Linked DNA regions of Homo sapiens: all the other regions are reported to be linked to region 4. The links are microRNA targets in miRTarBase. Many come from high-throughput screens and were not tested one by one. Region 4 holds a microRNA gene; each other region holds the end of a gene's coding sequence.
The links. The annotated mature microRNA hsa-miR-1205 reads UCUGCAGGGUUUGCUUUGAG and lies in region 4 at 3,382-3,401, shown strand. An mRNA with a match to its seed (bases 2 to 7 or 8) in the 3' UTR can be bound and repressed. Matches are read on the target gene's strand: a 7mer-m8 pairs with bases 2 to 8, a 7mer-A1 pairs with bases 2 to 7 and ends in A, and an 8mer does both.

Region 1: miRTarBase lists TENT5B as a target of hsa-miR-1205. Seed matches in the 3' UTR shown: 7mer-m8 at 4,064-4,070.
Region 2: the mRNA of SLC7A1 is a reported target of hsa-miR-1205. Seed matches in the 3' UTR shown: 7mer-m8 at 4,154-4,160 and 8mer at 377-384.
Region 3: miRTarBase lists POLR2E as a target of hsa-miR-1205. Seed matches in the 3' UTR shown: 7mer-m8 at 3,735-3,741.
Region 5: the mRNA of PKM is a reported target of hsa-miR-1205. Seed matches in the 3' UTR shown: 7mer-m8 at 1,021-1,027.
Region 6: miRTarBase lists MRS2 as a target of hsa-miR-1205. Seed matches in the 3' UTR shown: 7mer-A1 at 3,249-3,255 and 7mer-A1 at 2,240-2,246.

What each region holds. Positions count from the first base shown.
Region 1 is chr1:27,001,466-27,006,527 of GRCh38, forward strand. TENT5B (terminal nucleotidyltransferase 5B) reads right to left here. Exons shown (of 2, transcript NM_052943.4): 2 at 3,555-5,062. The coding sequence ends at 4,479. Among named protein-coding and RNA genes, the nearest start is that of TENT5B, 8.9 kb to the right of the region's middle. RefSeq lists enhancers at 331-934, 652-811, 2,362-3,006, 4,295-4,938, 4,939-5,062.
Region 2 is chr13:29,510,179-29,515,249 of GRCh38, forward strand. SLC7A1 (solute carrier family 7 member 1) reads right to left here. Exons shown (of 13, transcript NM_003045.5): 13 at 1-4,405. The coding sequence ends at 4,302. Among named protein-coding and RNA genes, the nearest start is that of MTUS2-AS1, 25 kb to the left of the region's middle.
Region 3 is chr19:1,084,948-1,090,018 of GRCh38, forward strand. POLR2E (RNA polymerase II, I and III subunit E) reads right to left here. Exons shown (of 8, transcript NM_002695.5): 6 at 4,937-5,015; 7 at 4,525-4,604; 8 at 1,627-3,773. The coding sequence ends at 4,539. It overlaps ARHGAP45 (Rho GTPase activating protein 45), which reads left to right. Exons shown (of 23, transcript NM_012292.5): 23 at 713-1,681. The coding sequence ends at 1,059. Among named protein-coding and RNA genes, the nearest start is that of POLR2E, 7.9 kb to the right of the region's middle. RefSeq lists enhancers at 943-1,442, 4,009-4,108.
Region 4 is chr8:127,957,259-127,962,329 of GRCh38, forward strand. MIR1205 (microRNA 1205) reads left to right here and starts at 3,375; the gene lies at 3,375-3,437. The region is part of intron 3 of PVT1 (Pvt1 oncogene); the gene reads left to right. RefSeq lists enhancers at 91-902, 2,751-3,726 and a cis regulatory region at 3,133-3,244.
Region 5 is chr15:72,195,090-72,200,160 of GRCh38, reverse strand. PKM (pyruvate kinase M1/2) reads left to right here. Exons shown (of 11, transcript NM_002654.6): 11 at 405-1,132. The coding sequence ends at 511. GRAMD2A (GRAM domain containing 2A) reads left to right here and starts at 2,374. Exons shown (of 12, transcript NM_001012642.3): 1 at 2,374-2,430. The coding sequence starts at 2,390. RefSeq lists a silencer at 2,227-2,646 and an enhancer at 2,757-2,936.
Region 6 is chr6:24,423,167-24,428,237 of GRCh38, reverse strand. MRS2 (magnesium transporter MRS2) reads right to left here. Exons shown (of 11, transcript NM_020662.4): 11 at 2,048-4,654. The coding sequence ends at 4,544. GPLD1 (glycosylphosphatidylinositol specific phospholipase D1) reads left to right here. Exons shown (of 25, transcript NM_001503.4): 25 at 1-2,406. Among named protein-coding and RNA genes, the nearest start is that of MRS2, 23 kb to the right of the region's middle.

The DNA.
Region 1 (5,062 bases), not on the chromosome of region 4:
AGGCCGAGGCAGGCAGATCACCTGAGGTCAGGAGTTTGAGACCAGTGTGGCCAACATGGCGAAACCCCATCCTATTAAAAATACAAAAATTAGCCAGGCGTTGTTGTGTGCACCTGTAGTCCAAGCTCCTTGGGAGGCTGAGGCATGAGAGTGGCTTGAACCTGGGAGGCGGAGGTTGCAGTGAGCTGAGATCGCGTCACTGCATGCCAGCCTGGGTGAGTGCTCTCCCCCCTCCACCCAAAAAAAAAAATGTAATGGGATGGTTCAGCAATCTGGGGCCAGCAACAGTGAGAAGCCTTTGCAACTCCTGAGTCTGAGGGTGAGGAGAGGTCACTGTGTGGAGTGGGGCCCCTGACAAGAACCGTGACCTTTGGTTGAGAGATGTGGCCAACCATGGCAACCTGGTAGAGAGGGAACAAAGAGAATAAATATCTACTCCTCCCTTAAGTCTCCTTAAGACGCTGGGATGTCTCATTGGCAACCCAACAGGAAGCCGGGGAACAAGGGAGCCATTGATGCAGTCCACAGATGCCAGCCCCCAGGGAACAGAGCAGAAGTGTGGCGAGTGAAAGCGGAAGGGCAGCATATCATGTAACTGTCTGAGGCTATGCCTTGTTCCTCAAAGTCCACAGCAACGCTCCTTCCCCATCCGGAGCTCCCACAACCCTCGGGTCTGAAGGGGTGGGTGGACTGTTGCTTGGAGAGCACAGTAAGGTTGGAAGGTAGAGGACAGGGCTTTTCCCTCTCAGCCTTTGCATTGCTGGCTCTGAGTCCCAGTTCCTGATTCCTGCCTGTCCTGGTGTCTTAGGTAGCTGCAGGAACTGTCCACAGGAGGAACCATGTCAGCCACTGAGTCGGTGTTTTTCTCACACTCAGAAACGCTGCACCACTCCCAAACAAAACCACAGGCGTGCTGCTGCCATCATGAGCCCTGGACAGTCATCACAAGCCATAATTACTGTCACATGTATATCAAGAAAACATACATCTTGGCCAGGTGTGGTGGCTCACGCCTGTAATCCCAGCACTTTGGGAGGCCGAGGTGGGCAGATCACGAGGTCAAGAGTTCGAGACCAGCCTGACCAACATGGTGAAACCCCGTCTCTACTAAAAATACAAAAATTAGCTGGGCATGGTGGTGGGTGCCTGTAATCCCAGCTACTCAGGAGGCTGAGGCAGGAGAATCGCTTGAACACGGGAGGCAGAGGTTACAGTGAGCTGAGATCGCACCGCTGCACTCCAGCCTGGGCGACAGAGCGAGACTCCGTCTCAGAAAAAGAAAAAAAAAATGTACATCTTGCCACACTGCTACACTGTGCCATAGTCACATATAAAATGACAAATGTCACAGTAATGTCAAATTATGCCTTGTCACATACGTACAGGAGACAACTGTCACAATCATGTGAAATCACAGTGCAGGAGCAGGATGGAACAGAGGTTAACAGCAATGGCTCTGGATCCAGACAAACCTCTTTGACCTCTCTGGTCTCAGTTTCTGTCTGCCAAATGGAAATGCTTTCTTTCCCCTTGTGGAGTTGTTGCAAGGATGATTTGGGAGATCATGATTGGGAAGACCTCAGCATAGTGCCTGCTGGAGTGAAGCCCACCAGGAATGGTGGCTGCTACTGTGAATAACTGTCTCACACGCCCCCACTGCCTCAGGCCCATGCGTGTGTGCAGTACCAGCACCTGGACGAGGCCTGCCAGACACCCTCAGGTACATGTGCCACAGTGCATGCACATTCACAGGCAAGCTCTCTGCCTGGAATGCTCTTTCTCTAAACATCTTCATGCCCACCTCCCACCACCTTTATGTCTTTGTTCAATCAAATATCACCTTTCAATGAGTTGCACCTGACTTTTTTTTTTTTTTTTTTTTGAGATGGAGTCTCGCTCTGTTGTCCAGGCTGGAGTGCAGTGGTATGATCTCAGCTCACTGCAACCTCTGCCTCCCAGGTTCAAGCGATTCTCCTGCCTCAGCCTCCCGACCAGCTGGAATTACAGGCACACGCCACCATACCCAGCTAATTTTTGTATTTTTAGTAGAGATGGGGTTTCACCATGTTGGCCAGGTTGATTTTGAACTACTGACCTCAAGTGATCTGCCCACCTCAGCCTCCCAAAGTGCTGGGATTACAGGCATGAGCCACTGCGCCAGGCTCCTGACTTATTTTTCAATTTTCAAAACCCAGCATTTCCAGTCCCTTACCCTGCTATATTTTTACATATCACTGATCATCTAAGACCATACGGTTCGGTTTATTTTCTATCTACTCCGTTAGAATGTAGTCTTCACAAGGACAGGGATTTTGTCTTTTGTTTGCTGATGTATTCCCAGCACCCAGAACGGTGTCTGGCACATGGTGGCTGAATGCAGTGTATACACACATGTACCAAATGGGTTTCTCGCTTTTTCAGCCCTTAACTAAACAAGCACATCCAGGTGAACTCCACCCCCCAGCCCAAAAAGGTAAGTCTGTTGTGTTTACACTGTGAGCCTCTCATGCCAAGGCTGAAATAGCCAACTCAGGAGGTGAGACAAACTTAGTCCTTCCCATGACCATAGTTGGGTGGTCACAGCTGGGATGGGGGTGGGAGCTGGTTTTAGTCACCAAGCAAAGAAAGCCTTTCTGTTCACTTTCCAGCCATTTTGAGCCCAGCAGCACAAGGGACTCAGAGCAGGTGAGGTGGCTGGACTCACCCTGGTGACCTGGGGCCTCCTCTGCAGCATTGTTTTTTCCACCCTGGCCAGAACCATCAAAGTCACCACTTCAGAGGCCCCTAATGAGGCTGAATATGTTAAGGGCTTTGCAATCCCTGGATCAAAGAGTCTGGGCAAACAGCAGGCAGCGTCCAGGCCCATGACTGACTGGCTGATACTCTGAGGGCGCAGCATGCTAGGAACTTGCGGCTGACACTCCTAGACAGCCTGGCATGGCCCCATGTGGGTTTGGGAAGGGGAGACCCTCCCCATCCAGGGGATCTGATTAGAGCGAGCCAGAGCACACCCATCAGTGCTCGGGGCAAGGGAAGGAGCTGGAGGACTGAGGGAGCCTCTCCCAAATAGAGGCCCTACCTGGGCTCAGGCTTAGGGGGAACCCTACAAGTTCCCCAGTCTCAGCCACCTTTACTGGAGGGGCCTCCAGTCCAGATTCACCCAGCCTGTTCTCTAGCTGCTCCCTTGGAAGAGACGGGGTAGACAGAGCTGGGAACAAGTACCCCTGAGCACCAGAGTCTGAGTCTAGGCCCAGAGCTATTTGGATTCCAGGTAGAAAACATAAAAATATTTACTCCTTAACAAGAGCCCTAGACCTGCTAAGGCAACGTGCAGGTCACACATGTAGACAGCAGCTCTTAATATACAGCTGGTCAGGCTGCGGCTGGGGTTGGGAGAAGGAGGGGCAGTCCCCCAGCCATAGCCCAGGCTTCAAACCCCGCCCCCGCAAATGCTCCCTTCCACAGTACAAGCCAGACTCCAACTGGGGGAGGCAGCTGCAACCCCCACTGCTACGGAAGGTCCTTCTTTCCCCAGAGGAAGCATGGCACTAAGGTTCAGTGTAGACCGTCTTTATTGGCAGGTGTTAAGAGTGCAAAATATCAACAAACCCAGGGGAATACGCAAGGGGGTGGGAGTATGGCTCCCCTACCCCATGTGAGAGCCCTGTAACCAAGCCAGTGGGGTGGGAACGTTGACTTGACTGTGGCAAATTCAGGCTCAGCACCTTCCAAAGAACAAGCTCCCAGGCAGGAGGGCTCCTTGCAACACAAGGGGGAAAGGAGTGGCACCCTGGAAGGGGCCTGGGCTGCGACCCACCCTGGGCTGCTTGGCTCCTGTATACTGCCCACCTCAACCCCTCAAGAGGAAGGCTTCACAGCTGGGGGTATGTAGTTCAGAGAACCGGGCTAAACCCAGCCCTCCCCAAACCCAGGTATCTGCCTCGGGCCTCAGTTTCCCTCCTCCCAGTGATTACCCAAGTTGGCCCATCAGGCCCTGTAGTGGCCCAGCCTGATCCAAAGTGACAAGTCCCTGTAACATACCATGTATCAGTCAGTGTGTGGGCTGCAGGCCCTCCAAAGCTGCTGGGATCACCACAGGCTGGCCTTAGTCAAAAAGACCCTCTTAGACCATGGGAATCAATCCAAGGTGCTGGGCATTAAGGCTACCACCCCAAACTTGCTTTGTCTCCTGAAGGAAATTGACTTCCAAGACAAATGGCGCCTGCACCCCACCGGCATGCTGGTCCAAAAGTGTGATGCAATAACCAAAGGGTCCTCCTGCTGAGAGCCCCAGGCTGGCATTAAGCCCACAGGGGCCTCGTGCTCGGGAAAGTCTGGTCTGTTCAATCAAAGGCCCAACCCTGCAGTGCTGGGCCTCCTGGCACATTCTGCGCCTCTGGTCATGTCCTCCACACACTCTTGGAGGCCCCACCCCACCCCGTGAGGCCCAGTCCCTTCCCTTCTGGCCAGGGTCTGAGTCAGTTACAAGGCAGCCAGGTGGGATAGGCGTGAGCCAGGAGAGGTTGCACGGGGGTCACGTAGTAATTGACAGTGGCTGGCACAACCCCGTCAGTGCCTGGAGGGCGCCAGGCCAGGGCGGCAGTGGCAGCTGGGCCCTGCTCAGCCAGTGCCTGCAGCGCCAGTGCGGCAATGAGGTCCAGCGTCTGGCGGCGCTCGTGGTTCATGAGGCACACGGTGCTCTCGTTGACCACCCGGTGCAGTGTCACCAGGCAGGCGTAACGGCGGGCTGCATCTGCCCCACCGAAGTGGGCCTCCAGGTAGCGCTCTAGGGTGCGCCGCTGCTCCACCAGGTCTGGAAAGTCGATGAAGAAGCGGGAGCACATGTAGCGCTGCAGGGCGCGCACATCGGTGCTGGGCCGGGGCCGGAAGCCCCGCACCAGGAGGTGGCAGTACTTGAGGAGGCCACCACCTCGGATCTCCTCGGGACTGCGCGTGGCGATGACACGGTGCCGCAGGTGCTCCAGGGCCTCGGTGAAGTCCCCGTACAGGCTTTCGCCTGTGACCGTTGGGTGGAAGGCCTCAGACATGGGAGTGGACGAGC
Region 2 (5,071 bases), not on the chromosome of region 4:
GAGGGCTCCATGGCAACTGTGCCCCGAGACTCCAGGCCCAGCCGGGTCCCGATGGCGAGAGCGTTGTGGCTCAGTGAAGCACTGGCACAGAAAGGCTGGACTCGAGGAATCGAGGGGTGAAGATGGAGTCGGCTGACATTTTTTGCCTTAAAAATACATTAGGAGTCATAAGCGTGATGACACATGGAGTGTAGCTTCTTGCACCACTGGATCAACAGTAATCAATTTCATGACTCGGATAAGGTCCCCAGGAGCCTGGCAGAATGTACATCTCCCTCTCCCTTCAGAGCCTTACATATAATCTTCTCATGACGATGGCAAACAGATATATTTTAAATTACACGTAACAATTATACATAGTGTATATCCAGATCCGTCTGCAGGCGAACTCTGCATCAGTTCCACATATAAGCCTCACGCCCCCACCACCCTGCAATTTCCCCGTCCTCGGAACTGTCTCACGAGACCACCAGCGCACAGACACGAACATGCCTCTCACACACCCCAGAACGCAGCTGTGCTGGAGTTGGGCACAAAGGCCCCTCACTCCCTGTCTTCATGGTGTGGGTTCTTGGCTGCCAACAGAACTGTCAGCCTTTATTAAGAAGGAAGGGTCTGTGTAAAAATGGGATGTGTGAATCAGAAGAGGGGCCCTGGCACAGAGCCAGGCAGGCTTGCTTTAGCATTGAGTCCTGCGTCGCGCAATGCCCAGGACCTTGCCTGTTAAGTCTGGGTGGGGCCCCTATGGGGCATGTCCACGTGCCCCCCACCAGACTCATTGCCCTGTCTCCAGTCTCCACTGTGGGTTGGGCTGGAGGCCATGCCACGTGGGACTGCAAACACCAGCCAGTTCACAATGCCTGCTCCGTGGCAGGGGCACGGCAGGGAGGAGCTGGTATCATCAGCGTTTCCACCCATCTGAACAAAGGTGAGCGGGCCATGCACCCTTCCAGCTGTGCACAGGGATGTGCTGAAGGTGCAGGAGGCAGTGCGTCAGGGCCTTGGTGGCTGGGGTAGGTGGAGAAGCCCGCTGCCCCCACCATCCTGCGGTCACCCCTGGACTCGTATTGGATCCTGGCCACTGTGCTAGAGTCAGCACAAGGGACCAGGTGGCTGGCTGCCTGAGAGAGAAAATAAGTCACAGTGGAAAGAGTTTTTACTGCTGCAAAAACCAAAAGTGGGGGGAGATCTCAGCAATTCTGACAACAGTATACATTTAGCGACCTTTCTGAGACAGCCTGGGGAAAATGCATCTATCACTGTCCTCTTGATTTGGAAAAATAAATCCGATGCATAAAGCCTTGGACAAGGGTGTGTGAGCAGGGATGATAAGTAGAGTGGGGGGTGTGTAGAGGCCTGGTCTCCTCCGGACGGTGCCCCTCCCAACTGCAGAGCTGCCCTCCTGTAAGCCGGCTCCCGAGCCAGCTGCCAACAAGGCCCCCACTGCCTCCCTGGAGACCCACTTCATCCCCCTCTTCAGCAGAGGTCCTGAGGCAGGGGGGTGGAGATCTGCTGGGTTTGCTGCTTCATGAATTTGGGCCTTCGGAGGTCATGAACACATGCAGGGCAGTCACAGGGGTTGTGGGAGACAGGAAGGGATGTTTACCCATCACAAATGGGTCTTTCCAATGTGGGTATTTGTGGCTGGTGCACAGATAAAAGTAGACACAATACTCCTTGGTGGGTGTGCCTCTAGTAATGTGTAAGTTCTGACTATGTAGGAAAATCCTGGCCAGTGGAACTAAGAATATTCTTGTTTGGGCAAGGGAACTAAGAGATGTGAAACTATCATTTTTTTTTTGCTTGTGTGTATTTTTATTTCAGGGAAAGAAATGAGGGATATGATAAGAAAAAGTCTATTAAAATTGTAAGGCTTACTCCAGACACCATTGCTTAAATCACTCCCCTCTCACACAGAGAGAAAACCCCTGGCAAGTGCACAAAAACACTACTCATAAAAGCACGGTGACCAGTGAACTATTATGCAAGGCACCCCCACGTGTCCTTTCCTAACCAGGAAGCCCGTCCTCTAAGGAGGGGGCATGGGTCCCATCCCTGCCCAGCCTAGGCGTGCTTCTGTGTCCAGCTTTAAGGCCTCTGCGTGAGGAAGGCCACAGACTCCCAGCTGTCAGCACGCTGTCATGATGAGACTTGGAGCAGGGGAGACGCACCTTCTCAATCTACAAAATGAGCCATGGCGCCCATTAAAATGTCAAATGTCAACTCTAAATAGTCTATTGGGTGCTGTCTTGCACGGAAATCTCAGCCAGAAAGAAAAACTAGAGAAAAGAAAAAAAAGAAAAAAGCAATTCTCTCCCACCACTTCACTTTTCTTGGAGACTGTCTATCCCTCGAATTCTCTTTGCCTATGTAGAAAATAACGGAAAAAAAAATCAAGCAAATAACTACCAGGTCCTAAGACAAGAGACAACCAAAACCCCAACAAAATAAGTTAGTATTTATCAAAATATGTTACAACACCAATCTCCATAAATGTCAATATCACTCTTTGGAAATCGGAGCTCTGGGCTCTTATGATGCTCCCTCTGGAACATTCAAAATGAGATCAGAATAAAGCTCCCAGCAAGGTGAGCAGGCCTGATACGGAGGCTCAGCCCATGGCCATCCACCCGCCCTCCACCGCCGTGTTCACAAATTCTTGCACTTCTCTCCAAGAACCTTCTGGGGGCACAGGGAGGGTACAAGTGCCCTCAATTTATCAGGCTTCTTTCTACCAGATTTGTGTCAAAGGCCAGACTAGGAAGAAATGGAAAGGAAACTAAGTTTTGAAAGCAGCATTTCCATTTCCCCTGGTGTCCAAAATGCCCACATCCCTCCTCCTCCCCCATCAGCATGGGCCTTCTGTCTCCTGAAGTAGACTCAGTGGAACGCTCCACCCACGTTCAGGTTTCCTCTGGCTCCCATCTACAAGGAGTGTGTGTGAAATGGTGCTGGCCGCAGGCCCCGACCCAGGCAAGACGGGGGTGGCGTGCACTGGAGCTATGGGGGTGGGGAGGATGCTCGGGTCTCTCCCACTTGCAGAGGCGTGGGGTCCGAAGCATCCGGATGACAGATACACAAAAGGGACAGCAATATGCCTAGAAATCACCTCCCCTGCGACCCACGCATCTCAGCTATAGGACAGCCGCAGGGGTGATGACATGGCCATTTCCAAGTTAATGTTATGCCCTAACTTAATCTGGTGGAGTGTCACAATTTCATGGACTGTGGATTGATTTCAATTTCATCATGTCACAGAGAGGCCAGACAGCTTATGTCAGGGCCAGAAACGCATGACCCCGACATGTCCTGACCCCAGACTGAGCTGCCACCAGCCTTGAGAACCTTACAGGAGCCACCAGACTGGCTCCAAAGCATGGGAGGGCAAGACTGAGTGAACGGTGGCGACTCACAGGAAACAGACTTCTGACTCGGCCACCATGGGGCCAGTCCTGCAGATACTGTCTCATGTTCCAGTTACTCAGGACACAGCCAGTCGGGGGAGACGGCAGGAGCAGCAAGAACTGGCCCAGGCCTGGAGGCCGTGAGCTGAAGGTCCCTGGTTTACATGCATGTGCACACACATGCATAAGCAAAGCAGGCCCTAATGGGAGTGATCCCTTCTTCCTCATTTGAGTGGAGCCAGCTGCCCTCAGCCCCGGGCAGCTGTCATGGTGTCAGAGCAAAGCCCTGAGAAGCCAAGGGGCAGGCAGGGTCCGGCCCTAATGACCCATCTGAATGCAACCGGAGAAGGACAACAGGCCTGATTTTCCTTTTTAAGTGCACTACTGTCATTTGGCTCTGGGGTGGGGAGCTGCTGGGGACACACTGTTTTGTGGTACTCATCTGGCTTGATTGCTGGGTGTCTGGGGCTGAGCGGGAAGATGGCTGCGAAAGTTTGGAGTATGCACAATTTCAATCCCAGAACAGTCCCCGGGAGGAAGGCCTGGTTCCCAAGATAAGGAGAGAAGGTGACCTCCGTTCTGCCTGAGGCTGCGGCAGCTCGGGGCTGAGCTGGTAGGGGAGGAACTGCTTTGTTCAGAGAAGTGAGGAGACACAGTGGCCAGCCGCAGCCTAGTGGCCCCGGCCAGGCAGCTGTCTGGAGGTGACCAGGGCCCGGAGAACCGGCTGCAGAGCCGAGGGTGGGCTGGGGCTGCAGGTCAAGTAATTGCACCTTTGGCTGCAGTGAGGGTGTGGACGCAGGTGGTTTCTGTTGCACTGGTGGGGAGGGTGGGGTGCCTCCCGGTCCTCTGGGGGCGTCCCTCGGGGCTGCTGCCACCTCCGGGGGGCGGGGCTGTGCGTCACTTGCACTGGTCCAAGTTGCCGTCAGGAGTCCTTGCTTGGTCGGCATCCAGGGACGCCTCCTCGCTGTGCCACAGGCCATAGCCAAAGTAGATGATGAAGCCTGCGGGCCGACAGCAGAGACGGGCGTGAACAGACCGCCGGTTGCACCACCGCAGGCAGGGCTCAGAGCCCAGGGCGGTCCCACAGCAAACCCTCTCAGGCGGCCTGCCCCTGCCTGGCATGAGCCCGCAGCCAGCGGCCCCTGTGACCTTTCCACATCTGGAGCAGCTGCCACACGAAGGCCACTGTCTGCTTCGACATCTGGCAAAGCCCTACGTTCCTCTGGACGGCCTTATGCTGCGGTGTTTCCTGAGCAGACAGAGCAGCTGGGCCAGGGCCACCAGAGGCCATCGGGTCCTTCAGCTTAGCCCCCTGATGCCCCCGGAGGCCACGAGAGTATCGAGAATGTGCACTATGGAGATGGGGTTTCCCGCAGGTGCTGGAGGTCTCCAGGCTCTCAGCCTGGACAGTCCCACTGCCCATTTCTCCACATAACTGAGCGTCAGACTGCAGGAGACACTGAGCCCCAGGAATGGACTTCACATAGGAGTCCACAGCCTGTTCCTGCACACGGGACTCCAGGGTGGGTCCAGGACCTATGCTTCTTACCACCTGCCCAGGGGCTGGGGCCACCTTGTGTGGCTGACACAGGAAAACAGGCCTTAAAGCAAGGACTCAGCCACCCACAGCCCAGGAAAGGAGCTCAGGCTCCTGCACACAGGGACTT
Region 3 (5,071 bases), not on the chromosome of region 4:
GGAGGGCACCTGTAATCCCAGCTACTCAGGAGGCTGAAGCAGGAGAATCACTTGAACCGGGGAGGCAGAGGTTGCACTGAGCCAAGATCATGGCACTGCACTCCAGCCCGGGCAAGAGAGAGAGACTCTGTCTCAAAAAGAAATACCTGAGACTGGGCAATTTACAAAAGAAAGAGGTTTAATGGAGTTACAGTTCCATGTAGCTGGGGAGGCCTCACAATCATGGCAGAAAGCAAAGAGGAGCAAGTCACATCTTGCATGGATGGTGGCAGGCAAAGGGAGAGCTTGTGTCCGGAAACTCCAGTTTTTAGACCATCAGATCTTGTGAAACCCACGTACTATCATGAGAACAGCCCAGGAAAGACGCACCTCCAGGATTCAACCATCCTCCACCAGCTCCCTCCCACAACACGTGGGAATTATGGGAGCTACAAGATGAGGTTTGGGTGGGGACACAGAGCCAGACCCTATCAACACCTCTCTCCTTCCGTTTCTCCCCTTGTCTCTCTCTCCTCCTCCCCGCCATGTCTCTCCATCTGTCTGTCCCTCCCCTTGTCTCTCCTCCATCTCTCCTGTCTCTCCCCATCTCTCCTGTCTCTCCATCTCTCTCCCCCCTCTCCTGTCTCTCCCCATCTCTCCTGTCTGTCCCTCCCCTTGTCTCTCCTCCATCTCTCCTGTCTGTCTCCCCCCGCCATCTGTCTCCCTTTCTTAGAATCCCGAGTTGTGTCCAACGATTCGGACTCGGACCTAGAGGAGGCCTCCGAGCTGCTGTCCTCATCGGAGGCCAGTGCCCTGGGCCACCTCAGCTTCCTGGAGCAGCAGCAGAGCGAGGCCAGCCTAGAGGTGGCTTCTGGCAGCCACAGCGGCAGTGAGGAGCAGCTGGAGGCCACAGCCCGGGAGGACGGGGACGGGGACGAGGACGGCCCGGCCCAGCAGCTCTCAGGATTCAACACCAACCAGTCCAACAACGTGCTGCAGGCCCCACTGCCCCCCATGAGGCTCCGTGGCGGGCGGATGACACTGGGCTCCTGCAGGGAAAGGCAGCCGGAATTCGTGTGAGCTGGGGTGGGGCTGGGACCACAGGTGGCTTCTCTCTTGCCTGCTCCTGTCCCTCCAGCACGTCCCCTGCACCACGGCATAGCTTAGGTGCGCCGTCCTGGGGTCGCTGCCGAGAGCGCCTGGACTTCGACGTCCCACCAGCGGGCGCCTCCTCCCAGAGGCTTCCAGGAGCACGAGGGCCTTGCGGCACAGGACTGTGCCCTGTGCTGTCCCCTGCACCCCGGCTCAGCTGAGCTGGGGAACACTGCTGTCGTGTGAAGTCACAGTGGCCTTGTTGGTGCCCACAGGGCTGTGTGGATGGAGGAAGCTGTCCCTGCCCAGTGCATCCCCCAGGTCATCACGGGGACGCAGGAGGCAGGCCCTGCCCTGCCCTCTCCTCACAGGTCTGTTGCAGGGACTCCAGAAACCATTCTGGGAGCCGTGGATGGGGGCGGAGCTGGGGTTTGGTGCAGTTTCCAGGGTGCAGTACAGCAGGGCCTGAATACTGGCCCTGGACTCCCTTTTCCAGAACACCAGGTGTGGCCACCTGGGGCTCAGGTACACAGTGGGGTCTCTCGGAAGCCACCGTGTGGTTCTTTCACAGGCACGTTTATTTTGCTGAAATAAAAAGTTTTTAATCGGGTGTTTTCTGTGGCAGCTGCAAGCTTAGAAGATTTTCTGTGGCAGCTGCAAGCTTAGAAGAAGGGGCCAGGGAGGGGACAGAGAGAGCCCCGTGGCGTGGCCCTGGGCCTCCCCCTAGGGGAGGGATGTGTGAGGAAGGGAACCCCCCGCCACGGGGCCCCGCGAGGTGGGAGCCCGGGTGGTCTTCACCACAGGCTGTGCAGACGGTCAGGCATCGAATGACCTCGTCACGTCCACCTGCAGCCCAGGGCAGTCCAGGAAAACGTTCTCGATGACGGACGTATCCCCCGGCTCTAAGGTTTCGCACGTCAGCCCCACATGGCCACCAAGCACTGGAAACGTGGCCCATGCGCCTGTGGAACTGCATTTTTTTTTTTTTTTGAGACAGGGTGTGACCCTGTGGCCCAGGCTGGAGTACAGGAGCACAATCGTAGCTCACTGCAGCCTCGGCCTCCTGGGCTCAAATGATCCTCCCGCCTCAGCCTCCCAAAGTGTTGGGATTACAGGTGTGAGCCACTGTGCCCAGGTAATCTTAAAGTTTTTTGTAGAGGTGGGGGGTTTCTCTGTGTTGCCCGGGCTGGTCTTTTAACTCCTGAGCTCAAGCGATCCTCCACTTCCTGGGTTCAAGTGATTCTCCTGCCTTAGCTCCCAAGTAGCTGGGATTACAGGCATGCACCACCACGCCCAGGTAATTTTTGTATTTTTTGCAGTGATGGGATTTTGCCATGTTGGTCAGGCTGGTCTCGAACTCCCGACCTCAGGTGATCCGCCCACCTCGGCCTCCCAAAGTGCTGGGATTACAGGCGTGAGCCACCGCGCCCGGCCACCTCCAGAATTTTCTCATCTTCCCAAACTAAAACTGTGCACATGACACACTCTGTCCCCTCCCTCCTCCCCAGCCCTGGGAACCCCCATCCCCACCCAACTCCCCAGTCCCGGGAACCCCCATCCTACTTCCAGTCTCTGACGACTCTAGTGACCTCCTAGGAGTGACATCAGTGTTTGTCCCTTTGGGTCTGGCTTGCTTTGGCCAAGACAATTTTGAAAAAAGTACATTTGGAGAGAAGGGGAAGCACTGTCCCCATCACACACACAGTCCGCGGCCTGGGGATCTGGGGACCCTGCTGCACAGAACAGTGGGCGCGTTACAGACCACCGACCGCCCGAGGGTGAATTACATCTTAATAAAGCTACTGTGAGAGAACCACGTGGCTAGGTTAAACTTGGGCAGGCGAGGCCTTCTGAAATCAGACAGTAAGCAAACGGGGAAGTAGAGCCAGATCCCAAACGTCTGTAAGAGGAACTGGCCGCAAACCACAGCTGCACAAGCCAGAGAACAACTCCACACCCTCACGGGAAGGGAAGAGACAGACACGCTCACGCCTTACCCAGGAGCACGAAGTGGGAGGGCAGGGCGAGGGCCTGGGGAGACACTGACCCCTGAAGCCAGCGCGAGGAGGGCACACCTGCCAGGCTGACCTCGTGTGCTTGGGGTGAGGCAAGGCCACCTGCTGGAAACCTTGTTAGTCGGCCTGGTTTCTGTATCAAGCAAATTTATTTGCTCAAAACATCTTTACCATTTGAAAACACCCAACCTCCTACAACAACCGAGAACTCCAGAGCTGGCATCTCGCACCCTGGTGGCTTGAGCGCGTGCATGGCTGTGAATGGAGTAAAGAGCCGAGGCCGGGCGGGGGCCGCCACGCATCAGGGCCCCCGAGGGAGGGAAGACGAGGGGTGGAAGGCCGAGGGCCCAGGAGGAAGCAGTGGCTGGTGGGAGACCCGGACCCCAAACCCCCAACAGAGGGGACCCAGCGTGGTCTGGGTGAAGACCCGGCACCAGCTGCCCCCAGGTGACCTCCCTCTGGGGGCCTTGTTCCTTCTGAGGCTGCATCTCGCACAAATCCACAGGTGAATGGGGCGGGCTGGGCCACAGGAAGCCTCACCCCAGGACGGGAGAACGTGGGTGGAGGCCACCTGCCTTGGGGAGTCCAGAGGAGCAGCAGCCGTGAGAGCTGTGGGGGCCGGATTCTGGCAGGGCAGGGGCGTTTGTCCTGCAGGGATGGGGGTCGCTGTGTGTCCGCCTCTAGGGGCTAGGAAAGGGGGAGAGTGGTCACACGACAGGGGCAGATCCAGTATGCCCAGGACAGCACAACGCCCACCGAACGTGACGGGGTGCGGGAGGCCTGGCAGGAGGCGGCCCAGGCCGCAGTGCAGAGGCCGGACGGCTCCCTTGTGCCCAGCGGTCACACAGGCGTGGGCAGTAGCTCTGACCTCAAAGGAACCGTGCCAGCGTCAGACCAGGCCAAGCCCCACCCCTGGGCTGAGTGTGAAGTGGGGCGGCCTGCAGGACAGCAGCTCGCCATGACCAGAGTCCAGGGGAAGCTGGGAGGCTCTCGCCATGGGCAGAGGCTGTCCCGCTCCTGAGACTCCGGCCAGTCCCTCCCAAGGTGCCCACTCAGGGAAGGGTTGGCCTGAAGCTGTGCCTCCTCTCTCAGCTCTGGGGTCTCTGGGCAGGTTTCTAAACCCTCTTCTGGAAAGTCCCGCCGCACAACTGCCCTGCAGGTGAACGTCTCCTGCTTCTAAGGTGGGTCAGCGGCGGAGAGACGCACGCCCCGCGTACCAGGACTCTCCCGTCCAGGCGCACAGCCCCAAGAGCTGCAGCCTACGGTCGGGTGGGGTCTGGGGGTCTGGGGGTGTCCTGGGAGCGCCTGGTGGCCCAGCTGGGCTGGTGCTAGGAGGGTCTTGCTGCCGGACAAAGCAAGAACAGCCCTGCACACCGACGGAGGGGACGACACCCCTGCCTCTGACCCCACCTCAGTGCCTGTCCCTCGGCCGTCTCACCTGTCAGGCGGTAGCTACTGCACCAGCCGGTAGGTGATGTACCTGCCAGCCGTCTCACTGGGCCGGATGATCTTCACCACCTGCAGAGACAGAGAGCAGGGGCTGCGAATGCTTGAGGGGTCTCACTGCAGTCACCAGACAGCAGGCGGGCAGCACACGGGCTGGGGATGGCCGGCAGGGGTCCGAGATGGCTGACCCTGGGCTGTGGGACCCGCTCCCTGGGAACCTGGGTCACGCTCTTCTCTGGGCCCAGTGGCCCTGGCTTTAAGAGGGGGATATTGGGGGTGTGGTCTCGAGGTCCCCTCCAGGCCCTGGATCAAGGGGGAGGGGCTGTCGGGGAGGGACAGAAGCCCCCTTCTCCGAGTGGTCAGCTCAGAGCAGCCCCAGGGCCCCTTCTCCCCACAGGGCTCACCTGCCCACGCTTTATCCCAAAGTAGCGCGCCACAGGGTCCCCCGCCTGGATCCTGGGCAGCTGGTTCTCTCGGAGCTTACTGCGAAGCACCGTCAGGAAAATGCCAGACAGGGCCGTTGGGGGGGCAGGGGTGTG
Region 4 (5,071 bases):
TTCAGGGGTGGTTTTAAACATGTCTTCTGGCTGGACACGGTGGCTCATGCCTGTAATTCCAGCACTATGCGAGACCGAGGTGGGCAGATCACGAGGTCAAGAGATCAAGACCATCCTGGCCAACATGGTGAAACCCCATCTCTATTAAAAACACAAAAATTAGCTGAGTGTGGTGGTGCAAGCCTGTACCGTGCAGCTACTCAGGAGGCTGAGGCAGGAGAATCACTTGAACCCAGGAGGTGGAGGTTGCAGTGAGCCGAGATTGCGCCACTGCACTCCAGCCTGGTGACAGAGCGAGACTCCGTCTCAAAAAAAAAAAAAAAAAAAAGAAAAGAAAAGAAAAAAAAGTCTTCTGCAGGCCATGGGGGACATGGTCTTCATTTTATAGGTGAACAGACTGAGATACAGGAGGAGTCACTTGCCTAGGGCCAAACAGCTCGTTCCTCTTCAGGCCTTCCCGGTCCTGGGAGCGAGTGTTTCTCTTTGCCTTGGGAGGCTTTGCAGCTTGTGCTGCGCAGCTGATAGCACTGCAACCCCTGAACATGCACACACACACAAGGTGCACACAGGCATGCGCATGGCGGGGAGGTGTGGGTGCACTTTCCAGCTTCCCTGCCGTGCCTCGTTCTGCAGGGCAAGGCCGAGAAACAGCGGGCAGCCTGTGTGATATGGGGACAGACATGTTCTCAGATCTTGGCCATGGTTTCTAATTCCCTGGCACCAGAAGCCCTGCTGGGTGATCAAAGCTGAGTGCCCCTAACAGAAAGCAGAGAGGCACATGGGAATGACAGGTGGTGAGGTGAAGGGAACACGGGCGTGGCATCAAACAGGATGGACAGAGTGGTTGGTTGGCTGATCTAAGTGTGGAGGAGGTTGTAAACTATTCATTTAAATGAATATATTTATTCAGCACCTACTATACCAACCTTAGAAAACTTCATACTTTCTGTTTTTTTCTCTTCTTTTTTTGTTTTTCTTTTCTTTTCTTTCTTTTTTTTTGAGACAGAGTCTGGCTGTGTCGCCCAGGCAGGAGTGCAGTGGCGCGATATCCACTCACTGCAACCTCCGCCTCCTGGGTTCAAGTGATTGTCCTGCCTCAGCCCCCCGAGTAGGTGAGACTACAGGTGCACACCGCCATGCCCAGTTAATTTTTTGTATTTTATTGGAGCTGGGGTTTCACCGTGTTGCCCAGGCTGGTCTCGAACTCCTGAGCTCAGGCATCCGCCTGCTTTGGCCTCCCAAAGTGCTGGGATTACAGGCATGAGCCACCATGCCCGGCCCATGCTTTCTGTTTTATTTGATCCCCTTTTTGGGGAAGACAGGGCAGGTTGAAAGGTCTGCTTTCCAGGGGAGGAAACTGAGGCTCAGAGAGGAGAAAGTCAGGCGCCAGAGGTAGATGAGAGCCAGGATTTGACCCAGTGATTTAGGATTCCAAGTCCAAGGCTCAAAGTGTGACTTGACAGCTGCAATCTGGGATCTGGATGTGTGCCTTCTGTGGCTCGGTGACTCCAGAATTTTTCCAACATCTGGTTGTACGGAATAACAATAGTAGCACGAATGATCCCATAGCTGACAGCCACGGGAGCCATGTGCCAGGCCTGGTTCTAAGCACATGTCATATTTGAACTCACAGAGTCCTCCTAGCTCACTGTGAAGTGGATACTATCGAAGGGGAGTCTTAAGGGTTTCAGTCAGTTGTCACGGTCACAGCACCAAGATGGGAACCCAGCAGGTGGCCTGGGTCCTCATGGTTTGCTGCTGTTCTGTGCTGCCCCTTAGCGGGGTGGGGTGGGGTGGGGTAGGTGGGCTCAGGCCTGCAGAGCTTCTGTGTGGCTCTAAGGGAGAAAGAGCAGAAGGGAGATTTGGGATGTCTTCTGAGTGCTAGCCACGTGAGTGCATTTTACCAAGCGAACTGATGACTATCAGTCCCCTGATTGCTTCCTGTCTTATGTTTTTATCTTATCCACGCATTTAGTGGGCATTTATAAAGGAATTCTGGTATTCTAAATATTCTACACTCTGGGGATATAAAAGTTAAAAGACCCAGGCTGGGCGCGGTGGCTCACGCCTGTAATCCCAACACTTTGGGAGGCCAAGGCGGGCGGATTACGAGGTCAAGAGATCGAGATCAGCCTGGCCAACATGGTGAAAACCCATCTCTACTAAAAATACAAAAATTAGCTGCACGTGGTGGCACGTGCCTATAGTCCCAGCTACTCGGTAGGCTAAGGCAAGAGAATCGCTTGAACCCGGGAGGCAGAGGTTGCAGTTAGCCGAGATGGCGCCACTCTACTCCAGCCTGGCAACAGCGCGAGACTCTGTCTCAGGAAAAAAAAAAAAAAAAAAAAAAAAGACCCAGTGCCTACCCTTAAAGGAGCTCTTCTTATTGAAACTCTTTAAGGAAAGGAGGCAGGAAACAGACATCTTTAATGGGCCAGAGGCTGATTTAGGCTGTTCAGACATTGTTAAGCTGCTCAGCATCTGAAGTTCAAAGAGGCTGAGAACAAACCGGTTAGGAAATGGCAGAAGGGGGTTGGGACCTAGGTGAGCAGCCCGTCAGGAGCCCCTGGGTGGCTTGCACTCCTAGCCCCAAGTGCAATATACAGGTGAGGCGCCTGCAGAATTTTCATTAGGCTGAGTTCATTTCTGGAAGCAGGGAATTGGCATCCACTTAACCATCCCTAATGCCTGCCTTTTCATGTATGTCTGCACTTACTTCTGGCCTTCCCCGGATGCAGTATGTGATTCCTGGAAGGGGTCTCCTGTACGTCGTAGTTTTGTCATCTTCAGGCAACCCAGGATGACATGATTTCTGGAAATTTCCCTGATTTCTTTCTGCTTCACTCTCCCTCTTTTGCTAGAAGGGATCGGCTTAGGCAGCCATTGTGGTGTTCATTCAACATGTCCAGTACAGCCTGTTACTGCAGTTTCCAAGTTGGAGGGTCCGTGAGTCTACTCCCTTTTTTGAACAGAGGGGTACATGGGGAAGCTGAGCCTCTGATGAATGGGTTGATTTGTCCCAGGTCACACAGCTTGAGGGTGGCAGAAGCCAGATCTCAGGTCACAGAGTGGCTCTCCTCCATTTGCCTCCCTGGTCTTGCCTCCTGGAGGCCTGTAGATAGGAGACACCCTTCCTGGAAAGACAACAGCTTGGGGACATTACAGATAAGGCTGGGCGGGTGTGCCTAGCTAGCCCAGAATAAAAGGATCACCGAGAGAAGTTAGGAATCGACCTTCCTTGAGGTGGGTTCTGCAGATAAAGATGCTTTTGAAGTTCAGTTGGTGGGAGATAGGATCTTTGTGGCCTTCTGGATGGATGCACCACGATAGGGAAATCAGCAAGCTGAAGATAGGGAAAGTGAACACTTATCACTGAAGGCCTCTGCAGGGTTTGCTTTGAGGTACTTCCTTCCTGTCAACCCTGTTCTGGAGTCTGTCTCCATTTTTCAGACACAAAAACTGAGGCATAGATAACTGTTTTCTGTTTTTTGTGGGGAGAGAGTATTATTGTTTCAATTTCCTGGACACTTCAAAACATAGGGTATTTCTCATTATGCAATAGTTTAATTGAGCACATACTGCAGGCCAGGCATGGTGCTGCATGCATTCTGGAAGTACAGGAATGAGTTGGAAGTGCTCTTTTTCCTTAGAGATTTTTTGTTCTCTTGTGTGTGTGTTTGGGGGTGGGGGGGGCGGGCGGGCACGAATAGGGGAGGAATTTAGATGAGAAATCAGATAATCACAGCCAAGGTGCCTGCCTGGGGACACAGGGTGCCATAGGCACACAGAAGGGCCCAGGGTGTGGACTTAGGGTGGTCAGGGGAAGGAAGGAGTTTGCCCAGAGAAGAGGCAGGAGGGAGACAGGAAAGGTAAGCAGAGGCCAGATCCTAGAAAGACCATTTTGACTTTGTGCTGAGGGCGATGGTCTCATGATGCAGATTTTAAGCAGAGGTGAGAGAGGGAGAGATTAGCATTTCAGAAAGCATGGCCTCTGCCATAGGAAGACAAGATCAGAGGGAGGTCCAAGCTGGTGGCCAGTGGTGACGGGGCCTGAGCTGGAGGAGACAGGGATGCACTGGAGACCCAAGAGAGAAGTCCCTGAACGCGGTGCACGAAGAGCCTCTGGGGTTACAGGAAGGAAGGGGTAAAATGTTCTTTTCTGTGTCCAGCTTAGGCCACTGAATAGATTCGGTGCTGTGTGTTGTACTAGGAAATGCGGAGGTGATGGGGATTGTTTGGGCTGGAGTCTGGAGGGGCTGTGCCCCACCCCAAGCTGGGTGAGCATCTAAGGTAAGTGAGGGCTGTGCCCAAGACTGCATGAGCAAATCCAGGTTCTCCTACCAGCAAGCTGCCTTGAAGACTCTGAGGCTGGAAATGTATAACCTTGTCCGTACCACTGAGCACCTGTTACCCATACACATTACTGTTCTCCAAACCACGGAACAACTTGAAGGATTGTTTTGCCAGACTAAAAAGTGAAGAAAGCACTGGTTTCCTTCCATGGTGTTCCTCTTTAAACCACACCTTCTCAACCTTGTTTAGGGAGTGGGGATGGCCTTCAGGAGCTCCAGAGGCCCCCCCTGCCCGAGTCTGACTCCTGGTTTCTGGCTTCAACAATGACTAACCTGTAACTTCACATTTTGGTCTATAAAGTGGGTAGAAATGTAGCACCTCTGCATTCTCCAGGTTTGTTGTGAGGACGAAGGAGATAATGAATGTAGAATTTTTTTTTTTGAGACGGAGTCTCGCTCTGTCGCCTAGGCTGGAGTGCAGTGGCGCGATCTCGCCTCACTGCAACCTCCGCCTCTGGGGTTCAAGCGATTCTCCTGCCTCAGCCTCCCAAGTAGCTGGGCCTGCAGGGGCACTCCCAGCTAATTTTTATATTTTCAGTACAGACGGGGTTTCACCATGTTGGCCAGGATGGTCTCAATCTCTTGATCTCGTGATCCACCTGCCTTGGCCTCCCAAAGTGCTGGGATTACAGGCGTGAGCCACCGCTCCCGGCCATGAATGTAGAATTCTGAGCCCAGGGCTGGCTCACTGGGAGTGGGCCACACATTTAGGGGGTTGT
Region 5 (5,071 bases), not on the chromosome of region 4:
AGTTTTTTTTGTTTTTTGTTTTTTTTTTAAATAAAATTGGCCACAGCTCCTGTGCTGTGGGGTGGCATACACAGATTACGTACTGATGTGGCCATTGTCCCTGTATAAGGTAGGGTATCATCAGATGACAGGAAGCAGCTAGCTCTGACCCTGGGCAAGGCTTTGCACCCTCTCCAGGATAGTGAATGATGTCCAAAGGTCCCTGCCAACCCTGCCATCTGAGTGATAAGGACATTTCAGGGCCTTCCTCCTGTTTGCCTGGGCTGTGAGTTTGGTGCCACCTTGTGGTGTGAGGAAGTAGTGGTCAGCCAGCCTAGTTCAGTACTCAGGCTATGGGGCAGCTGCCCAGGTGCAAACCTGCCTGGCTTGGCTTTTACTCACCAACCTCCCTTCTCTTCCTCCAGGCAAGGCCCGAGGCTTCTTCAAGAAGGGAGATGTGGTCATTGTGCTGACCGGATGGCGCCCTGGCTCCGGCTTCACCAACACCATGCGTGTTGTTCCTGTGCCGTGATGGACCCCAGAGCCCCTCCTCCAGCCCCTGTCCCACCCCCTTCCCCCAGCCCATCCATTAGGCCAGCAACGCTTGTAGAACTCACTCTGGGCTGTAACGTGGCACTGGTAGGTTGGGACACCAGGGAAGAAGATCAACGCCTCACTGAAACATGGCTGTGTTTGCAGCCTGCTCTAGTGGGACAGCCCAGAGCCTGGCTGCCCATCATGTGGCCCCACCCAATCAAGGGAAGAAGGAGGAATGCTGGACTGGAGGCCCCTGGAGCCAGATGGCAAGAGGGTGACAGCTTCCTTTCCTGTGTGTACTCTGTCCAGTTCCTTTAGAAAAAATGGATGCCCAGAGGACTCCCAACCCTGGCTTGGGGTCAAGAAACAGCCAGCAAGAGTTAGGGGCCTTAGGGCACTGGGCTGTTGTTCCATTGAAGCCGACTCTGGCCCTGGCCCTTACTTGCTTCTCTAGCTCTCTAGGCCTCTCCAGTTTGCACCTGTCCCCACCCTCCACTCAGCTGTCCTGCAGCAAACACTCCACCCTCCACCTTCCATTTTCCCCCACTACTGCAGCACCTCCAGGCCTGTTGCTATAGAGCCTACCTGTATGTCAATAAACAACAGCTGAAGCACCTGTTTCCTCTCTTTTCTGCTGGGGAGGGGGAGGTGGTTGAACCCTGCCCTCTGAGCAGGCTGGGAATGGCTGCAGCCTCGTGCCCCGCAGTGGGAGCTATGGTGGTGTCACCTGCCATCCTGCCCACCTCCTGGTGCAGAGGCGCTGGGAAAGCAGTAGCTTACTATCTTAGGGTTACAGGTTGCCCCCTTCAGTGCTGCGGGGAGACTTTAATGGCTTACGTGAACCGAAGATGGGAAAGAGCAGGGACAAGGCCTCCCTCCCACTCTGGTAGATAAACCCAAATTGCAAAGTGGCCTTGGCCATGGTTCTTCCACTTTGGTCTTCCTGCATTAGCGTATCCCTTATGGGGGCTGTAGGAGGAGTCAGCTCTGGGCGCCTGAGACTGGGTTTGGCTCCCAGGTCCTCAGTTGTGGACCTAGGCTCCCCTTGGGACCCCTCCTGTTTGCTGGTGCCCTCCCACCATGATGCTGTAGTGCCAAAGGGCTGGGGGAGAGAGTTGGGAATGGGACCAAATCTGGCCTGCGCTTTTCCTCTCCCCTGACCACACTCCCAAGGACCAAGTGTCCTGGTGGGGATGGAAGAGGAAAGGGCCTGCAGGCCAGGCAAAAGCTCATTGTCACACTGAGCGCACGTGCCTCTGCTTCCCTGCCTTTGATTTGTGTCCACCTTCAGCCCCTTTGCAGACTCCTCCAAAAGTGTATTTCCTTGGAGAAACTGCAATGTTAACTCCGGCAAAAGTGCGTGGGAGCATCCTGGCTCCCGGGTTCGTGGTGGTGACTTGGCTGTCAGACCATGGTGTTCAATATCCCCTTTGGTGTTCCCCACTGACGGTAAAATTGAAACTTATCCGGAGCTCTATGTTGGGAAGGGTTAGGTTGGAGAGGGGCCGGAATTGGTTCCTGCAGAGGGACCCAAGCCGCAAGACTAGGACGACAGAAGCGTCCAGAGGGGACACAATACCCTCGACGTGAGGGACAGGAGGTGCCGCGCCAGGCCCTGGCCTCCGGGACCTCCCAGTCCGGGGAACCGAGCGCTAGGATCTGCTCAGAGCTTGGAGCCCCACCTGGGGAAGGTGGGGAAGGAGAGAAGCTGGGGAAGCTGGGGAATGAGGGGGAGGAACGGCCAATGGGCTGTGCCCGGCCCGCGCGACCCGCCAATGGGCGGGCGGGCGGGGCGGGCTCTCGACGGGGCGGGCGGGGTCCGGCGGGCGCTGGGTCCCGGCGCGCGGTCGGGGCGCTGGGTGCAGGCGCCGGGATGACCGCTTTAAGCCGGAGCGAGGCCACCGAGGAGGGCGGGTAAGGGGTTGCGGCCCGGGGGCCGGTCTCGGGGGTTCCGGAGGCCGCCGCGAGGGGCTGCTGCCGCGCGGGGCAGGACGGCTCCTGGGGCCGCGGCAACTCGGCGCGTTCTGCCCACGGGGCAGGCACTTCCCGGCCGCCGGAATGCGGGCTCCGGGCCAGAGCTGCACCGCGCGCCCAGGCGTCTCCCGGGGCCCGCGAGGTGTTCGCACTAGGACCGGGTGTCTTGGCTGAGTCTGCTGCGACCTGGGGGATGAGGGACGGTCCCGGCAGCATCGGGGCAAGGAAGGGCACCCTCCTCGGGACGCCCCGCATGGCCCATCTCCGCCTCGCCACTCTGTTCATCCTTTCATTTATTCATTCATCATTCGTTGCCCGCGGTATCGACTCCCAGTCCTAATTGCCCCCGACCCAAAGGTTGGATTTCCCTGCGTCCCCTGGAGGGCCAGACTGTTTCCTCTCGCCGCCGAATCCGTATTGTAGCGGCCCGCGGCTGCGGGGAGGCAGCTCGGAGCTGTCTCAGCACGACGCGGCCTCCCCCGGGCGCCAGGCCCATCCCGGTCGGGCGGGCTGGGGCCGGTCTCCCGGCCTCGAGACCTGGTCCAAAGTCGCCCTGGGAGAAAGGGATAAGGAGGCAGGGCAGACAGGAGCTGGCGCTGCACGTAACATCCAGAATTGTGGTTTCTGCTGCTTGAGGTCTTAGGGTCCTGGGAGTGACATTGTTTGGGGGAACCTGTCAATTCCTGCCCCGGTCCAGGTTCCAAGCCGCACAGCCTAAGGTCGGGTACAGCCTGGCATCCTCGGCCAGCTAGCACTGGGGCAGGTAGGATGAATGTGTGAGCCTTGTGTCCAAATCAGCCCGAGACACACAGGGATGTGGACCCCAGCGGGACTCCCTCTGCCTTATACTCAGAGGGACTGGTGGGGCTCCACCCCGCTGTCGTCTGTGTCTCTGCTCTGCTTGCCGCCCCACTCACTATGCTTGATTGTTTAAAGGTGCCCCTCCTTGCAGGGGCCAGGCTCCTAGGGAACGAGAGAGGGTACCCTCGCAACCTGATGTCTTCACCCCATGTCCACCTGTAGCCGGCTCTAAAGTCTGGCTCCTTTCAGAGCAAAGACTTATGGCCTTGCTGGGAGAGGTAGAATAGAGGGTGTCTATCCCATTCTTCAGTGAGGAGTCAGTATGCCCCTCCTTCTTTTTTCTTTTTTTTTTTTCTGAGACAGTTTCACTCTGTCACCCAGGCTGGAGTGCCGTGGTGGGATCTTGGCTCACTGCAACCTCTGCCTCCCAGGTTCAAGTGATCCTCCTGCCTCAGCCTCCCGAGTAGCTGGGATTACAGGTGCCCACCACCACGCCCAGCTAATTTTTGTATTTTTAGTAGAGATGGGGTTTCACCATGTTGGCCAGGCTGGTCTTGAACTCCTGACCTCAGGTGATCCACCCACCTCAGCCTCCCAAAGTGCTAGCATTACAGGGACTACAGGTGTGAGCCACGTGCCTGGCCCCCTCCATAGTCTTCTGATCAGGCTGGCTGGAGACCATGCTGCAGACACTCTTAGGTTTAAGTTTTAGTTTGACAGGCATTGAGGTAGCCTCAGTGGGCACCTCTGGGACAAATGGGCAGGTCCAGAGGGGAAAGCTGACAGAGGCCCCATCGAGCTTCCAGGAGAGTTTAGGCTGGGGCCAAATAGAAGTTCTCCTTCCCAACTTCCCCTTGGGAGAATTTTCTGAATAGCCTGAAGAGGGTAGCTCAAGCTCCATCTGTGCCTTGATGTTGCTGGCTGCTTTCAAATTTCTTTCTTTTTTTTTGAGACGGAGTTTTGCTCTTGTTACCCAGGCTGGAGTGCAATGGCGTGATCTCGGCTCACTGCAGTCTCCGCCTCCTGGGTTCAAGTGATTCTCCTGCCTCAGCCTCCCGAGTAGGTGGGATTACAGGCATGCGCCACCACACCCGGCTAATTTTGTATTTTTTAGTAGAGACGGGGTTTCTCCATGTTGGTCAGGCTGGTCTCCAACTCTCGACCTCAGGTGAGCTGCTCACCTCAGCCTCTCAAAGTGCTGGGATTACAGGTGTGAGCCACTGCACCTGGCCTCAAATTTCTAAATTTAGCAAGGCCCCAAAGCTTTGGCACAGACCAGAGAGACTTGTATGCTAATTCATCCACCTAGGGTGCTCCCGTGACCCCCTGAGGTTGAGGTCGGCAGTACCCAAGGTGGGTTGCTGCCAGCTGGCCTCTTGGAAGCTCTCCCATGAGCTGCTGCGCTGTTAGTGCCTCCTGGGTGGCTCCACCCCGCCCCTAACCTGCTTAGGTTCGCTCTGGTCCTTGCCTGCCACGGACCATGTTTATCAGCTGGAGGGAAGAGCCTCACTCTGGAATCAGAAGTGAGTTCTAAGCCTCAGGCTGTTCCTGTTTTGCTGCGACTTGGGACAAGTCACTTCCGCTTTCTGGGCCTGCTTTACACCATAAGGTAAGGAGATTGGACTGTAGGTTCCCTAAAGGCCTTCTGCATGCAGTCATCCAGTGATTCTCCTAACTAGACACTTCTAGCAGCTTCAGGGGAAGTTTGTCTACACTCATGCTACAGTATTTTCAGCAAATGTGATTGGACAAGTGGGCCTGTGCCTTATCTTTTGGTGGA
Region 6 (5,071 bases), not on the chromosome of region 4:
TGAACTTAAAAATAACAGATTGGCCCATGCCAATCAAAGTATAATAGAAAGCATAGTATACAGAAAAAAAAAAAAAAAAGAAACTGAGGGAGGAAAAATAGTACAGAGTAAAGCATGGGGGTGAGGGATAACCTCACATTCCAAATCACTTGTGACTTAGTCCTTTTTAACTTTTATTTTAGGTTCAGTGGTACATGTGAAGGTTTTATCTTTTCTGTTCCTCCCACCTTCCCCACTCAAGTAGACCCCAGTGTGTGTTGTTTTGTGTTCATAAGTTCTTTTAACTTAGCACCCACTTGTGAGAACATGCTATACTTGGTATTTGGTTTTCTGTTCCTGGTCGTGTGTTAGTTTGCTAAGGATGATAGTCCTTTTTTTTTTTTTTTTTTTTTGAGACGGAGTCTTGCTCTGTTGCCCAGGCTGGAGTGCAGTGATGTGATCTCAGCTCACTGCAACCTCCGCCTCCCAGGTTCAAGTGATTCTCCTGTCTCAGCCTCCCAGGCAGCTGGGACTACAGGTGCACAATACTACGCCCGGCTAATTTTTGTATTTTTAGTAGAGACAGGGTTTCACCATGTTGGCCAGGCTGGTCTCGAACTCCTGATCTCAGGTGATCCACCCACCTTGACCTCCCAAAGTGCTGGGATTACATGTGTGAGCCACAGGACCTGGCCGATAATCCTTTCTTAATGAGGATTAATACCTTTTCAATGTTTATATAGTGAAGGACAAATATAAAAACCAAGACTATCACCCTTCTGTGCCCTCCAATACTTTTGTAGAGTTGGCTGTTCTAACACCTAAAGAGCCTAGCGACACTGCTAGTTTTAAGCCATCTCATGAGGGACCTTTGTCGCATTAGGTTACAACTTGTGCCAAAAGAACTAGAGGGAAAAGATGTGGCCTGAGCCACACGCTACTGTAAGGGCCGGAGAGGAAAGCAGGCCTTGGCCTCGCTTGTTCCTGGGCTGTTTTTCGTAGGATGGATTTCATTTGTCAGTCCTGCAGCGTGGCACACTTAAGGGAATGGAATGTATCATAGGGTTTCAGTTTCAGTAAACATTAGCGGGCATTATCTGTAAACAGTAACTAGTTTATTTTGTGTTAAATTGGGAAGAACCTCTTTCTTCTGCCACGGGTGAGATGATACTAAAAGCAGGAGAAAATAACAAATGAGAAGAGCCCTTCTCTTCTCAGCTTCTCTCAAGAGTAGAGACTGGTGAAAAGGGGACAGGAAGAGGAATCCAGCTGAAGAGTGGAAAGTTAACAAGAACATCAAGAGGTACATCCCTAGAGAGCATCTCTGGGTCACTCCCAGGATGACCTCATTTTTCTGGAAGAGGTACATGTGCTAGCTGCATAGTAACCTATGGCACAGCAAAAGCACAAGGAAGCGCCATTTGGTTTTGTTTAGGGACAATTATTGGTAGCCCAACCTATCTGAAGAATTACTTTTAATTAAAAGGATGGTTATTTTTAGGGGACCAGAAATTACTTAGTTGTATTCACTTATGAGTTGAGCAGTTAGAGCACTCTGACATCTGACACTTGAGTAAAGGGATGTTTTTCTCAGTACTGGGTCTTTTCATTAGACGGATGCATTTATATAGTGTCAGTTTTTATGCTTCACTAAATGATAAGGCCTCTGTTTAAACATGACCATTATTTACCTCACGATTTATATTTTTCTCAATGCCTGAATACACCCAATAGCAAGCACCAGGTGGAGGTTAAGACCCACAAAAATGGAAGCAAGCTTCAAGTTTATAGGACATTTAACCATACTAACCCCAATGTCAAAAACAATGTAAATTATACTCCTACTGTAAAAGGTCAACTGATATGGCACGTATGTAAAAAACCTGGCATACAGGAAAAAATTAATGCATGACAGTCTAATATATTATCCTGATACATGGATTAAATTTTCTTTCCACTAAGTATTAACTATAGTTTTAAGCATTGATTCTGCTTAATAACTAAAATGTAAAGACCTTACCTTGTAGGGTTGTAATTTCTCATTAACAGAAATCTGAACTTATACAAGTTTAACTGAAATTTATCTTTATTTCAAGATATCAGAAGACATTTACATATTTGCATTTTCTGTCTTGCTACTATCTGCGTATATGTAACAGCTTTTCTCAAGGCTTCAAGATAGGAATTGTTTTATGCCTTTGTATCACAGACCTAAGAGACCAAAATTATTTGAAGATGGAGTGGGGACAAAACTAGGGTCTCTGCAGTCCCTACTCCATGTACCATCCATTAGCTCACCTCTGTAGGTATTACTAAAGTCATGAGAGTTAAATCCAACGTGCAACTTTAATATTGCAATTCCAAAAAATAAAGCTGTATACAACTCTTGGAATAACTCACCAAAATAAATAGCTTTTTAATATAAAATTGGTTAGTGCTGCTTAACAGTCTGTGTTCATGAAGAATAAGGTGTTAATAATTGTGCTCACATTTGTTTAGGAGCCTTCCAAAGACAGTATCACACCTTGACGTGTTCGACACTTGATGTGTTTGACAGGCGATATGATTGCTTACTCACTCACATAACCCAGTGTTTGGTACCTACTTTCAAACAGTAATTAATGTGCTCAGTCCATTTTAGTTCAAAATTTAAAACCAAGGAACTTCATATATTTTTGGCATAAGCTGATTTATTATTTATGAGAACTTTAGTATAAGAAGCATCCTGCAATCACAAAAGTGGAACTAGTTGATATTTTGAAATCATACTTGATTTAACCACCTTCAGAAATTCTATAAAACACTAGCAACTTCCTTTTATCAGACTTATGAGGTAGTTACATTATTTTTCCTTTTATTGACATGATTCATCAAAAAATTATTTTATCCAAGCTCATAAACTAAGTCAATAAAACTGCAAGGAAAAATGACAAAAATTCTATCTTATGCCTGATCTTAGTCAAATCAAATGTTGCCCTCTGGGATTCCAATTCTTCATGTCACAGTTAAGTAGTACTTATTATGTATTTTACAGTGATACGACCCAAAATAGCAGCAGTGTGCTCTGAGGTGTGCCAAAAGTGTGCCCTGTGAAATATAAGTATTATCAAATACAATCTTAAAAATCCTAAGAGATTCGTAATGCTAGAGGGTGCTGTATGTTCACATTCCGACAAGAACACCATGACGCGTGTTCCTGACCCACAGTGTGGTGGCACAGGGGCCACTGCGTGCTCGAGTCTAGCCCAGCCTGTCCTGTTCCATTCTGTTCTGCAGCTTCCCTCTAATGGCTTCCCATGACCACACACAGGAGTGGGGAAACCTTACTTGTACTTCATCGGTTTTCTTCCAAATCAGCGACGGGAGTAACATTTTTATTCCTATCACCAAACCACCTGAAAAATGGACTCCTAAACTTCCTCATATGACATCACATTAGGCTAATCATGTACCCTCAATATCATCAGGGTAAGTGTATTTATTCTGTTATTATTACATTTGTAGTGCAAGAGCTGGACACTCTAGAATCTTCCATGCACACTACTTTGGGAGGCTTAACAAATGTTCTAGTGCCTAACTGTACTTAACCTCCAGAAAATATTTTAAAAGGTAGGTAGGATGTTAAAGAGGATGGCAGCTTTCAGGCTTACAAATATTAGCCATTTGTTTTAAACCCAAATCTCTGTGGAAATGAGAAGATATCACAGTTCTAACATTTATTCATCCTCATGTTTTAGGAAGCTCATCTGTCAGCTTCTGAGGTGTAGGCATATAGATTAGCAGGACAATAAACATTTTTCTTTTTGGGGCAGGGCAGGGGTGGTATCTAAATATCTACTTTAAAAATCAATAAATGGACAAAGTGCTACAAAACAGTAACAGAATGGAAATACTTCCTTTCAACTTTGCTTCCAAAGGCTCTAATTACAGAGAGCAAAGAAAACTAGTCTCAGGGGCTGAGAACGTGAAATCTTGATTAGGAATCCATACAATGGTGATATTAAATTATTTCTTTTTATTCACCTTTTATAAAAAAAAGGGGGCAAATACAAGAAATAAGGTTATGTCAAAGTTTGGTTTTTAAAGCTCAAACTTACAGAGTCTGTTGTAAGGTTAATACATAGAATGCTAGCTTTTTAGTCACCTGAGAATCAGGAAATTCACATGAACATAATTCCCTATACTGACAAAGAACTATAGCTACCTATGGGCTTGTCAAGTTCCTACGCTTCATTCAGCATGAAATTGCACTTTTCTTGATATGTATAAATTAAAATCTATGCAACTGTCTGTGCTTGTGTTGCCTCATATCACATCTATAAAAACAGCATTTAAAGTTTGTAGGAAATAGAATTTTGGCCTTTTACAAAGCAAATACTTTGTTTCTTTAACTCAGAATTCTGGAAATGCAATCCAGTTCTGGTATTGTGACTGCCAAAATATTTTTGTCTTCAAACATTAGTTTTTTTCAAGTGTCTGACTCTATACAAGAAAATAATAAAAAGAGTATCAGAAGTTTCCTGTAACTACCATAAAAAAAACTTCAGTATCCACGGGGCTGTTCCTAACGGTTTGTTAGGATGCTCCTTCCTGATCCAAGTCCATCCAGTCTGAGGCTATTTTTCAATTCCATGCTTCTATCTGCCAGAAGAGTCTTTTTAGGTAAAGAAGCCATCTAAATAAAGCAGAAGTATTAATTTTAGTATCTTTTTTAAAAGAAAAGCCACTAGTAAAATGATGTATTATGTAACTACTCAGTGAAGAAAGGACTATAAGCAGTATCAGTGTCTTAAGTATTTATTCCAGTGGTGCCATCTTCAAGTACAAAGAAAATGGAGGTGAATTTTCTATCTTTTAAGAACGTTATAAATGTTTCCTACATTTCCATTTGGTTATGACAAACCTTATACCAGAATTACTAACATCTGTTTAAATGTATGTTGTCAGAGTTCTACACAAATTATATTTCTAACTTATTGTGTTAGGCAGTGTGCTAGTAAGTGCTTTACACATATTGTTTAATTCTTCCCATAACCCTATGAAGCAGGTAATACCGACTTAACTGACAGATAGGGAAACTGAAGGAAGTTTG